Linked DNA regions of Homo sapiens: region 2 is linked to region 1. A link means that fine-mapping ties the variant in region 1 to the plasma level of a protein whose gene starts in the linked region. Region 1 holds a variant in brackets. A gene starts in the other region. All regions are shown on their forward strands.

The links. PIP is the posterior inclusion probability: the model's chance that the variant is causal. The UK Biobank Pharma Proteomics Project read protein levels with antibody pairs (Olink). The fine-mapping took linkage between variants from a reference panel, not from the people measured, so its PIPs are less certain.
Region 2: it holds the start of CREG1, and the variant in region 1 is fine-mapped to the plasma level of the CREG1 protein (UK Biobank, PIP above 0.99).

Annotation. Positions count from the first base shown.
Region 1 is chr12:101,815,870-101,821,249 of GRCh38, forward strand. The region is part of intron 1 of GNPTAB (N-acetylglucosamine-1-phosphate transferase subunits alpha and beta); the gene reads right to left. Among named protein-coding and RNA genes, the nearest start is that of GNPTAB, 12 kb to the right of the region's middle. The variant CT/C (reference allele first, on the strand shown) is at 2,507.
Region 2 is chr1:167,551,310-167,556,630 of GRCh38, forward strand. CREG1 (cellular repressor of E1A stimulated genes 1) reads right to left here and starts at 2,453. Exons shown (of 4, transcript NM_003851.3): 1 at 2,079-2,453. The coding sequence starts at 2,432. RefSeq lists a silencer at 2,142-2,591.

The DNA.
Region 1 (5,380 bases):
ATAGAGAATTCAGAAATAAATCCACAGATTTACAGCCAACTAATTTCTGACAAAAGTGCCAAGAACATACGATGGGGAAAGGACAGTCTCTTTAATACATGGTGCTGGGAAAAAGGATTTCCATATGCAGAAGAATGAAACTGGACCCCTACCTCTCACCACATACAAAACTCAATCAAAATGGATTAAAGACTTAAATCTAAGACCTGAAACTTGAAACTACTAGAAGAAAATAACTGGGGAAATTCAGGAAAATCATCTGGGCAGAGACTTACGGAGTAAGACCTAAAGAGAATACACAGCCAAAGATAAATGGACAAATGGGATTACATCAATCTAAAAAGCTTCTGCACAGCAAAGGAAACAATCAACAAAATGAAGAGACTACCTACAGAATGAGAAAAATTATTTGTAAACTATTCATTTGACAAGGGTTTAATAATCAGAATATATAAGGAACTCAAACAACTCAATGGCATAAAAAAACCCAAATAATCTGATTTTAATATTGGCAAAATATCAGAATAGACATTTCTCAAAAGAAGACACATGTAAGTGGCCATAGGTATATTTAAAAATGCTCAACATTACAAGTTATCAGGGAAATGTAATTAAAACCACAGTGAGACATCTCACCTTAGTCAAAGTGGCTATTATCAAAAAGACAGAAAATAAGAAATGCTAGCAAGGACTTGGCAAAAAGGCAATGCTTGTACTCTGTTAGTGGGAATGTAAATTAGTATAGCCACTATGGAAAACACTTTGAAGATTCCTCAAAAAACTAAAAATAGAACGACTATATGATCTAGCAATCCCACTACTGGGTATAAACCCAAAAGAAAGGAAATCCGTATAATGAAGAGCTATCTACACTCCCATGTTTATTTCAGCACTATTCACAATGGCCAAGATTTGGAGGCAAGCTAAGTGTCCATCAATGGATGAATGGATAAAGAAAATGGTTTATACACACAATGGGATATTATTCAGCCATAAATAAGAATAAAATCCTGTAATTTGCAGCGCATGGATGGAACCAGAGGACATGATGTGAAGTAAAATAAGCCAGGCACAGAAAAACAAATTGCATTCACATTTCTCACTCATATGTGGGAGCTAAAAAACTGATCTCATGGAGGTAGAGAATAGAATGGTGGTTGCCAGAGGATGGAAAGGGTAGTGGGGGCAGTGGGGATGAAGAGTGATTGGCTAATAGGTACAAAAATAGTTAGATAGTCCTGGTGTTCGACAGCACAAGAGGGCAACTGTAATTAACAATAATTTATTGTATATTTCAAAATAGCTAAAAGTGAAGATCTAGAATGTTCCCAACACAAAGAAATGATACATGGTTGAGATGATGGATATCCCCATTACCCAGATTTTATCATTCCACTTTTTTTTTTTTTTTTTTTTTTGAGACAGGGTCTCACTCTGTCACCCAGGGTGGAGCAGTGGCACAATCATGGCTCAATGTAGCCTCAATCTCCTGGGCTCCAGTGATCCTCCTACCTCAGCCTCCAGAGTAGCTGGGACTACAGGCACGTGCTACCACACCTAGCTAAGTTTTGTATTTTTTTGTAGAGATGGGGTTTTGTCATGTTGCCCAGGCTGGTCTTGAACACCTGAGTTCAAGCAACCCACCCACCTAAGCCTCTCAAAGTGCTGGGATTCAGGTGTGAGCCATTGCACCCAGCCTGATCATTACAGATTGTATGCATGTATAAAAATATCACATGTACTCCATAAATGTGCATAACTATTATATAGCCATAATAATTAAAAATTAAAGTAATTAATTTTTTAAATAGCTAGCCAAGGTGACACATGCCTACAATCCCAGCTATGGGGAGGCTGAGGTGGGAGGATCACTTGAGCCCAGGAGTTCAAGACCAGTCTGGGGAACATAGCGAGATCCTGTCTCAAAAAATAAAAATATCAAAAAAGCTTGTGGATTCTGAAGCATTATACTTGATGTGGGATTTTCACCCCGTCTCCTGTTGCCCGTTTTCCCCCACCTGCAATTCATCTTCCACATTACCTCCAGAGCAACTGTTCTAAGCACAGATTTTATTTCATCACTCTCTTCCTTAAAATCCTTTGATGGTCCCCATTTTCTTCAGGATGAATTCACATTCCTTAGTACCACCCAGCAGGCAAGTCCTAAACTGGCCCCTGCCTGCCTCTTCGGCTTCATTCCCCTGTCACTCCAAAGATGCTGCAGCCCTTTAGAACTACTTTTGTTCTTAGAAGTTAATAATGTCTCATATCCATACCTTTACACCAATGGCATCTTTTCCTTAAGAAACAAAACAAACAAAAACACTCCCCTTCCTTTACTCAGCCATCTCCTTCCAGACCAAGCTCAGGTATCACACCATCTGAGAAAGTGTGCTTGGCACTGCATTCATCACAACACATTTCAAGTTTGCCTACTTGCCTGTCCACCTCCCTGCCTGGACTATGAGTTCCTCCAGAGCAGAAAGCAACTTAAATATATTTGTGT[CT/C]TTTTTTTTTTTTTTTTTGGAGACAGAGTCTTACTCTGTTGCCCAGGCTGGAGTCCAGTAGCACGATCTCGGCTCACCACAACCTCCATCTCCCAGATTCAAGTGATTCTCCTGCCTCAGCCTCCCAAGTAGCTGGGATTACGGGCACCTGACACCACACCCGACTAATTTTTGTATTTTTAGTAGAGATGAGGTTTCACCATGTTGCCAGGCTGGTCTCAAACTCCTGACTTCAGGTGATCCACCCACCTCAGACTCCCAAAGTGTTGGGATTATAGGCCTGAGCCACCGTGCCCAGCCCTTTGTGTCTTTAGTCAACAGTAGACAACCTGGCTAATATAGTTTGCCTGTGTCCCCACCCAAATCTCATTTTGAATTGTAGCTCCCATAATCCCCATGTGTCATGGGAGGGACCTGATGGGAGGTAACCGAATCATGGGAGTAGGCTTTTCCCATGCTGTTCCTGTGATAGTGAGTAAGTCTCACAAGATCTGATGGTTTTATAAAGGGCAGTTCCTCTGCACATGCTCTCTTGCCTGCTGCCATGTAAGATGTGCCTTTGCTCCTCTTTCCCCTTTCACCATGATTGTAAGGCATCCCCAGCCATGTGGAACTGCAAGTACATTAAAACTCTTTTTCCTTTTTTTTTTTTGAGACAGAGTCTCGCTCTTGTCGCCCAGGCTGGAGTGCAATGACACGATCTTGGCTTACTGCAACCTCCACCTCCCAGGTTCAAGCAATTCTCCTGCCTCAGCCTCCCAAGTATCTGGGATTACAGGTGCCCGCCACCACACTTGGCAAATTTTTGTATTTTTGGTAGAGACAGGGTTTCACCATGTTCGCCAGGCTCGTCTTGAACTCCTGACCTGAGGTGATCCACCTGCCCCGGCCTCCCAAAGTGCTGGGATTACAGGCATGAGCCACCATGTCTGGCCTAAACCTCTTTTTCTTTATAAACTACCCAGTCTCGCGTATGTCTTCACAGCAGTATGAAAATGGACTAATACACTGGCCCAAAGTGAACACCTCCATAAGCCTGTCACATGAACAACTTCTGAAAATTTGCTTTAGAAGCTTTATCTAATTGGGAATTAATGAGAGACAGAAATGAAGTGAGAAAATGAAGGGGGGGAAAAAGGTTTATCAAAGGAAAAAGAAAAACTAGAATCCTAAAAAAATGAAGCAATTTTGAGAAGTAATCTTAAAGTGGGCAATATGGTTTTTAGTCTGATCATAGAATGAGTTTCACTCCCTGAATGAGTGTGACCTGACCTGGTCTTTCTGAAAGATCACTTTTTCCTGTGTAATTTAGTATGCATACGAATCACACATAGGCTGACTAATCAACTGCTGAAGATTCTGCATCTGTATCGCAAGATGAGAACAATCTAAAGAACAGCAGAAATTTTAAAAAGATATATCATGAATATATATAATCTATTATAGTTACACCTGTTATATTTTAGAAGGAACTATAGGAAGCCTACATATATTAGTATACAGTACAAGCTATATTAAATAAAGGACTTGCTCCCTCTGATTTCATAGCAATCATAACACAGCACACCAAGGTCAAGAAATCACTGTGAGTTCTCCTGTTCTGTATTTAAGGAAAGATTAAGAGGCATAAGCTCACAGGGTGGTCTCCTGTCCTTTCTTCATGAGCACTCTGGCCACATGGAAAACAATCCTGAGATGGGACAGTTGGCACTTAATTAGCTGAACGCCTAGGACCAGCCTCTACGCAAGATGTCTTACATACATTAGGCACCTCACTTAAACTACTCTTCCTAAGTTCAGTCACAATCAGCAACAAAAATAAATTTTGATGCTTATAAGTATTCATTCAACAAATATTCACTTAAGAACTACAAGTAGGGTCTGCGAGAGCAAATGAACTTGTCTATCTCGCTTACTTTTGTATCCCAAGATGTTGGTGGAGTGCCTAGCACATAATGGAACATAAGGACTGGAGGATTTTGCCTCTTAAGCCTCTTGAATCTGTCCATTTCTCTTCCTATGTCCTTCCACTGACCTAGTCCCAGGCCAGTCCTGTAGACTAACTGCCCTGCAGCCATTCTTGCCCCTTCTAATTCCGGATTTCTCAACTTCAGCACTATCGACATTTTGGGCTGGATGATTCTTTGTTGTAGGGGCTGTCCTGTGCACTATAGGATGTTTGGCAGGATCCCTGGCTTCTACCCACTAAATGCCAGTAGCATCAACCCCATGCCATGCCCCAGCTGTATCAACCAAAAATGTTTCTAGACATTTGGCAAAATCACACCTAGCTAAGAACCACTGTCCTAGAGCTGACTTGACCTCCTCTGTCCTCAGCCTCAGCAATTCTTACCCTCTACGGTTGAACTCAAACAGCATCAAGCAAGAAAGCATCTCCCAGCTGGGCACAGTGGCTCACACCTGTAATCCCAGCACTTTGGGAGGCCGAGGTGGGTGGATCACCTGAGGTCAGGAGTTCAAGACCAGCCTGGCCAACCAGTGAAACCCCATCTCTATTAAAAATTTAAAAAGTTGCTGGGCGTGGCAGTGCAAGCCTGTAATCCCAGCTACTCAGGAGGCCGAGGCAGGAGAATCACTTGAACCCAGGAGGTGGAGGTTGCAGTGAGCCAAGATAGTGGCCACTGCACTCCAGACTGGGCGGCAGAGTGAGACTCCGTCTCAAAAAAAAAAAAAAAAAAAAAAGCAAGCATCTCCTGATCCCCTGCCACCAGACCAAACTGATTCTCACTGCTGGTCTCTTCCACAACGATGCTCTATTTCTTTACAGCATTTCTCACAATAGTAATGAAGTGGCAGTTAATGTCTGACTGCACCACCAGAATATAAGCTCCTTGTCAGCAGGAGCCAAGTCT
Region 2 (5,321 bases), not on the chromosome of region 1:
TGGAGGTCAGGAGGAGGAAAAGAAAAAAGCAGAAACTTTGACCTGCTAATTGATGGAATCAAGTCAGACAAATTCTAATGTGGCCACTTCTTTTCACTGCCATCATGGAAACCTAAAGCCCTGGGTAGGTTCCTTGCCACTGCCCTGTCTATTTCTAGAAACATGAAAGACCTGGGCTAATGTCCTACCTGACAGCCATTAGCTGACTGGTCACAGGGTAAGTCCCTGCACCTCTGAGTCTGTGTTTCCTCACTTCCTAAATGGGGACAATAATACCAGCAACTCCCTAGTCACCTCACAAATTTAAATATGATTATGTATTGGTCAATCTCCCTCCTCCCCCATTAGAATCATCAGGGAGTGGTTTGTGGGGAGGCGGGAAGGGGTGTTGTCTTAAAATAAAATGTGCTTTCAATAAAATACCTTGGCATCCCATTTTTAAAGCCTTCTTAGGTGACTATGATTTGCAGTCAAAGTTGAGCACCACTGATGGAGTGGAGTGAGTTTGTTTTGAGCAAACGCCTAAAGGTGTGGAATGGGCTGGGAATAAGAAAATGGTGAACTGGGGTGTATCTGCCTTAGCTAAAAGAGGGCACTGCTTCTGTTTTTGCTCAAAGAGTGCAGGCCCACAGTGTCACTGGATCTTCCCATTTTTCAAGAAAAGTTAGAGATTTACATTTTAAAGTAAAATCTAAATTTTAAAATGTTGGTAACAAATTCAAATTTATTAAAAACAAAACAGAACTTTGTGTAGGCCAAACCGGTCTGTGGGACATATTCAGCTGATGGGCCACCAGCCTGTGATAGGTGGTTTGAAGAAAGATGAACCTGAGATGAAACTAGGGGTTTGCCCGCTGGCTTTAAACAAGTTACTTAACCTAGGTAGGCCTCAAGTTCTTCATCTGCAGAATGGGGTATATAATACCTACTTCAAAGAATTAATAGAAGAGACAACGAATGGAAGGCAAATGGAAAAGTGATTAATCAAGCATCAGTTTCTTGCATCCTGTCTTTATCAACAATGTTGTACTTTCAGAGTTGAACTCAAATGTGAGAGCTTTGTCAAAAAGACCCTCCATCAAATCAGGCTCCATTCCTGGACTCTGTGTGTCTCCGGCCTCCCAAGCTGGGTGTCTGTGACCCCATCCCTGAGACAGCAGAGATCCATCAGAGTTGTAAGTGTGGCCCTGCACCAGAAGGTGGGCAAAGGGCGAGGAAGAGATACACCTTCAATCAGCTCTGCATCTTACTGAGGAGCCACTATGCCTGTGGAGGCCTAAAGACTGCAGTAATCATTGTAATCGTCCATGATATTGTACGTTAGCGTCTTGCTGCAGGAGGGAAAAGCTTAATTCAGGAAGGGTAAGAGAGTGAGAAACCCTGAAGTCACATATTAAAGTGCTTAAGTACCTAACAATCTCTATGCCCTGTAAAACCTTTAAGAATAGGAGCCCAGGCAGGGCGCGGTGGTTCACGCCTGTAATCCCAGCACTTTGGGAGGCTGAGATGGGTGGATCACGTGAGGTCAGGAGTTTGAGACCAGCCTGGCCAACATGGTGAAACCCCGCCTCTACTAAAAATACAAAAATTAGCCGGGTGTGGTGGCACGCACCTGTAATCCCAGCTACTCGGTAGGCTGAGGCACGAGAATCGCTTGAACCTGGGAGGCAGAGGTTGCAGTAAGCTGAGATAGCGCCACTGCACTCCAGCCTGGGCCACAAAGTGAGATTCTGTCTCAAAGGGAAAAAAAAAAAAAAAGAGAATAGGAGCACAGTTAATAGAGACACTGGGCCCCAAGACGACTGAGAACCACTCACGGATGAGAAGTCCTCGGGCTGCTGGCAGAGAATTTACCCCAGGTGCGTGGCCCAGTGGCGGAGGCTTGTGGGAAATTCCTGGTACCCAGCTGCCCAACATCTGGGACGCTGCAACGCCCACCTACCTGCCTGCGCGGCAGAGAAGCAACAGCCGTTCGAGCCACGCTCCACTTCCCGGGAAGAATTCTGGGGAGAGTGAAGGCTCGCTCTGTGGCCGCCCCGCCCACAGCCCGCCTGGGGAAGCCGCGGGCCCCAGCTCACCTGCAGGTTGCTCACGGAGAGCTGCAGCGGGCTCAGGTAGAAATAGGGCACGCCGCTGCCCGCGCCCGGGGGCCCGTCGCTGAGCGAGAGGACGTCGGCGAAGGGCCGGCCGCGCACCGCCTCCAGCGTGGAGATGGTGGCCAGAGCGCCCCAGTCGGAGACGTGCGTCACGAAGCGGGCCACGCGCGCCGCGTCCTCGCGGGGTGGTAGCGGCGGCAGCCGGGAGGCCTCGTCCCAGTCCCCGTGGTCCCGGCCGCCGCGACCCCGCGCGGGCGACACGAGCAGCGCCAACAGCGTCGACGCCAGCAGGGCGGCGAGCAGTGCGCGCGCGGACCCGCGGGATAGCCCGGCCATGGCGGTGTCTCCAGGAAGAGTCCCGGGCCCCAAGACCTGCAGGGACCCAGCCGGAGCTCGGCGCGCCCAGGCCCCGCCCCCTCCGCGAGGCGCCAATCAGAGCTAAGCACAATGCAGGGGGCGGGGTCCCTCTGCAGCTCCGCAACCTGCAGGAGAAGGGATTGGTTCATCTGCATTCCAATCGCTCTGCCTGCCCTCTTTAAGGATTGTGAATTTGTCCTAAACGGGATATTTGTTTTGTTTTGTTTGACAGGCGGAAAAAGAAAGGCTTGAAGAAATCAAGCAACTTGCCCAAATCGTACTGCTAGGAAAAGACCAGCCTCTTTACACAGGCACACACCCCCTCCTTTTAATACCTTTGGAGATGAATATCTGGCATCTGAGAGGAAATGCTGCATTTTCTACCCATGCGCCTCTTTTCTGTTGAATTTACCATCAGCTCCAAAGAACAGCGAGGGTCCCAGCGTTGTAGAAGCCCAGACTCAGGCTCGTGTACCCCATGTGTAGCTGATGCCAAACACTGACATATAGGTGCTTGGAGATAAAAGTTTATTCGATTTGGCCAAAGCGAGAAGGCGGGAGGGCAAGATCTCTCAAATCCGCCCTAACAAAAAGAAGAAGCAGAGAGTGTTTATGCGGCCAGCGAGTCAGGGAGGGGGAGTTTCAGGGAATCGAGGGAAAAAGTCTGTGTTTCTTCAGTCTCAGATAATTCCTTGAACAATCAGACTTCTGGGCGACAGAAGCTGGCCTCAAAGTACTTCAAAGGACTTATTCCTCCTGCAAACTTTTTCGTAACCCTGAAGTTATTATCTCCTCCTGCTTGATAAAGAAACAGTACATCAGCAGTTTATGATTATGTTGTAGGAACAAGGGATATTGGGCAAAAAGAGAGTTGTCAACATGTGCAAGCAAGGGCCTGATCAGAATTTTCATTATTTCAGTCACTAACAAATGCTGGGGTGCTGAAATCTCAAGGGGCCCACTTACACTAGTAGTAAAGTTAGGCAGAAGCCCGAAAGTTCAAGACCTTTAAAAAACTTTTTATTTACTTATTTTAAAATTTTTAATTTTTGTGGGTACATAGTAGGTGTATACATTTATGGGGTACATGAGATATTTTGCTACAGGCATACAATGCATAATAGTCATATCAGGGTAAATGGGGTATCCATTGCCTCAAGCATTTATCCTTTGTGTTACAAACAATCCAATTATACTTTTAGTTATTTTAAATGTACACTTAAATTATTATTGGCTATAGTCACCCTGTTGTGCTATGAAATACTAGGTCTTATTCTAACTATTTTTTGTACCCATTAACCATCCCCACTCCTCCCCTGCAAGTCCCCCCACTACCCTTCCTGGCCTCTGGTAACCATCCCTCTACTCTCTGTCTCCATGAGTTCAATTGTTTCCATTTAGGCTCCCACAAATAAGTGAGGATGTGTGAAGTTTGTCTTTCTGTGCCTGGCTTATTTCACTTCACGTAATAACCTCCAGTTCCAACTATGTTGTTGCAAAGACAGACAGGATCCCATTCATTTTTTATGGCTGAATAGTACTCCATTGTGTATATATACCACATTTTCTTTATCCATTCATCTGATGATGGACACTTAGGTTGCTTCCAAATCTTAGCTGTTGTGAATAGTGCTGCAGTAAACACAGGAGTGCAGACATCTCTCAATATACTGATTTTCTTTCTTTTAGGGATATACCTAGCTGTGGGATTGCTGGATCATATGGTACCTCTATTTTTAATTTTTTGAGGAACTCCAAATTTTTTTCCAAAGCGGTTATTCTAATTTACATTCCCACCAACAGTGTACAAGGGTTTCCTTTTCCCCACATCCTCACCAACATTTGTTATTGCCCGTCAAGACCTTTTAAACTACTGGCCCAGGAGTCCCTCATATAGACGCACAAAGGGATTGTTAGTCTACTATCAATATCCCATGTACAAATTTGAACTTACCAGTTCAGGACCTGTTAAGACATTAAGCTTGGGGTCGGCGGTTTCATGAATTTATTGCCCCCGCTGCCCTTCCCTGCTCCATGTAAGGGACATTCCTTTTGCTTCTTCTAAGATGGCCTGTCTCATTCTCTCACGGGTGCTCCTGATTCTGCTATTCTGGAAACTGGTCAATAAGCTCATAGCACCTGGCCTCCATTCTTTATGACTTTAAGCTTTGGTCACGTCTTTTTGGAGCAAGTCTTAATCTTTTTGGCCTGGCCTCAAATTTCCACTGTAATTGTTGTTATAAAGACTGTATGGTGGTGTTAGTGCAAGAGTTTGTCATCTTGTAAAGCTGGCTCTGGCAGACACCTGGCCCTGTGAGGCTGAGTTGTGTAACAGAGGTGAGGTAATTTCACTCAGCTGCTGTTGGCCAGTCATGTGAGCAGCCGTGGGCAACAGGTGTGTGAGCCAAAGTCCCACCGCTACTTCCCTTCTCAAAACCAGCCTCCTAATATTCAGCCAACTTCTCAGGCTACACAGTAGGAATTGTGTATCAGAAGAAGCAAGATCATCTACTCTGAACAGGAGACTTCAGTGCCCTCTGGTGGCCAAATGATGTCACACACCCTGATTTCGACATTGGGGTAAGAAGGATCCTTAATCAAAGTTGGTTTGCTTTATAACAACTGAATTTGGAAGAACTTCAAAATAGATGGAAAACTAAGTGGGAGAAATTCAAAAGGAGGAAAATTGGGTTCATCATTTTAAAAACAAATGATTAATACAAATAGTTTGAGTACCTGCCGGTTATAAACATTTCATCCCTTACCTGTTAAGGAAAGAATACTCTCACATTTGGAGTTCTAATCTCAGGTCTGCCACTATCGTGCCATGTGACCATGGGATTTTATCTTACCTTTGGGCCTCAATTT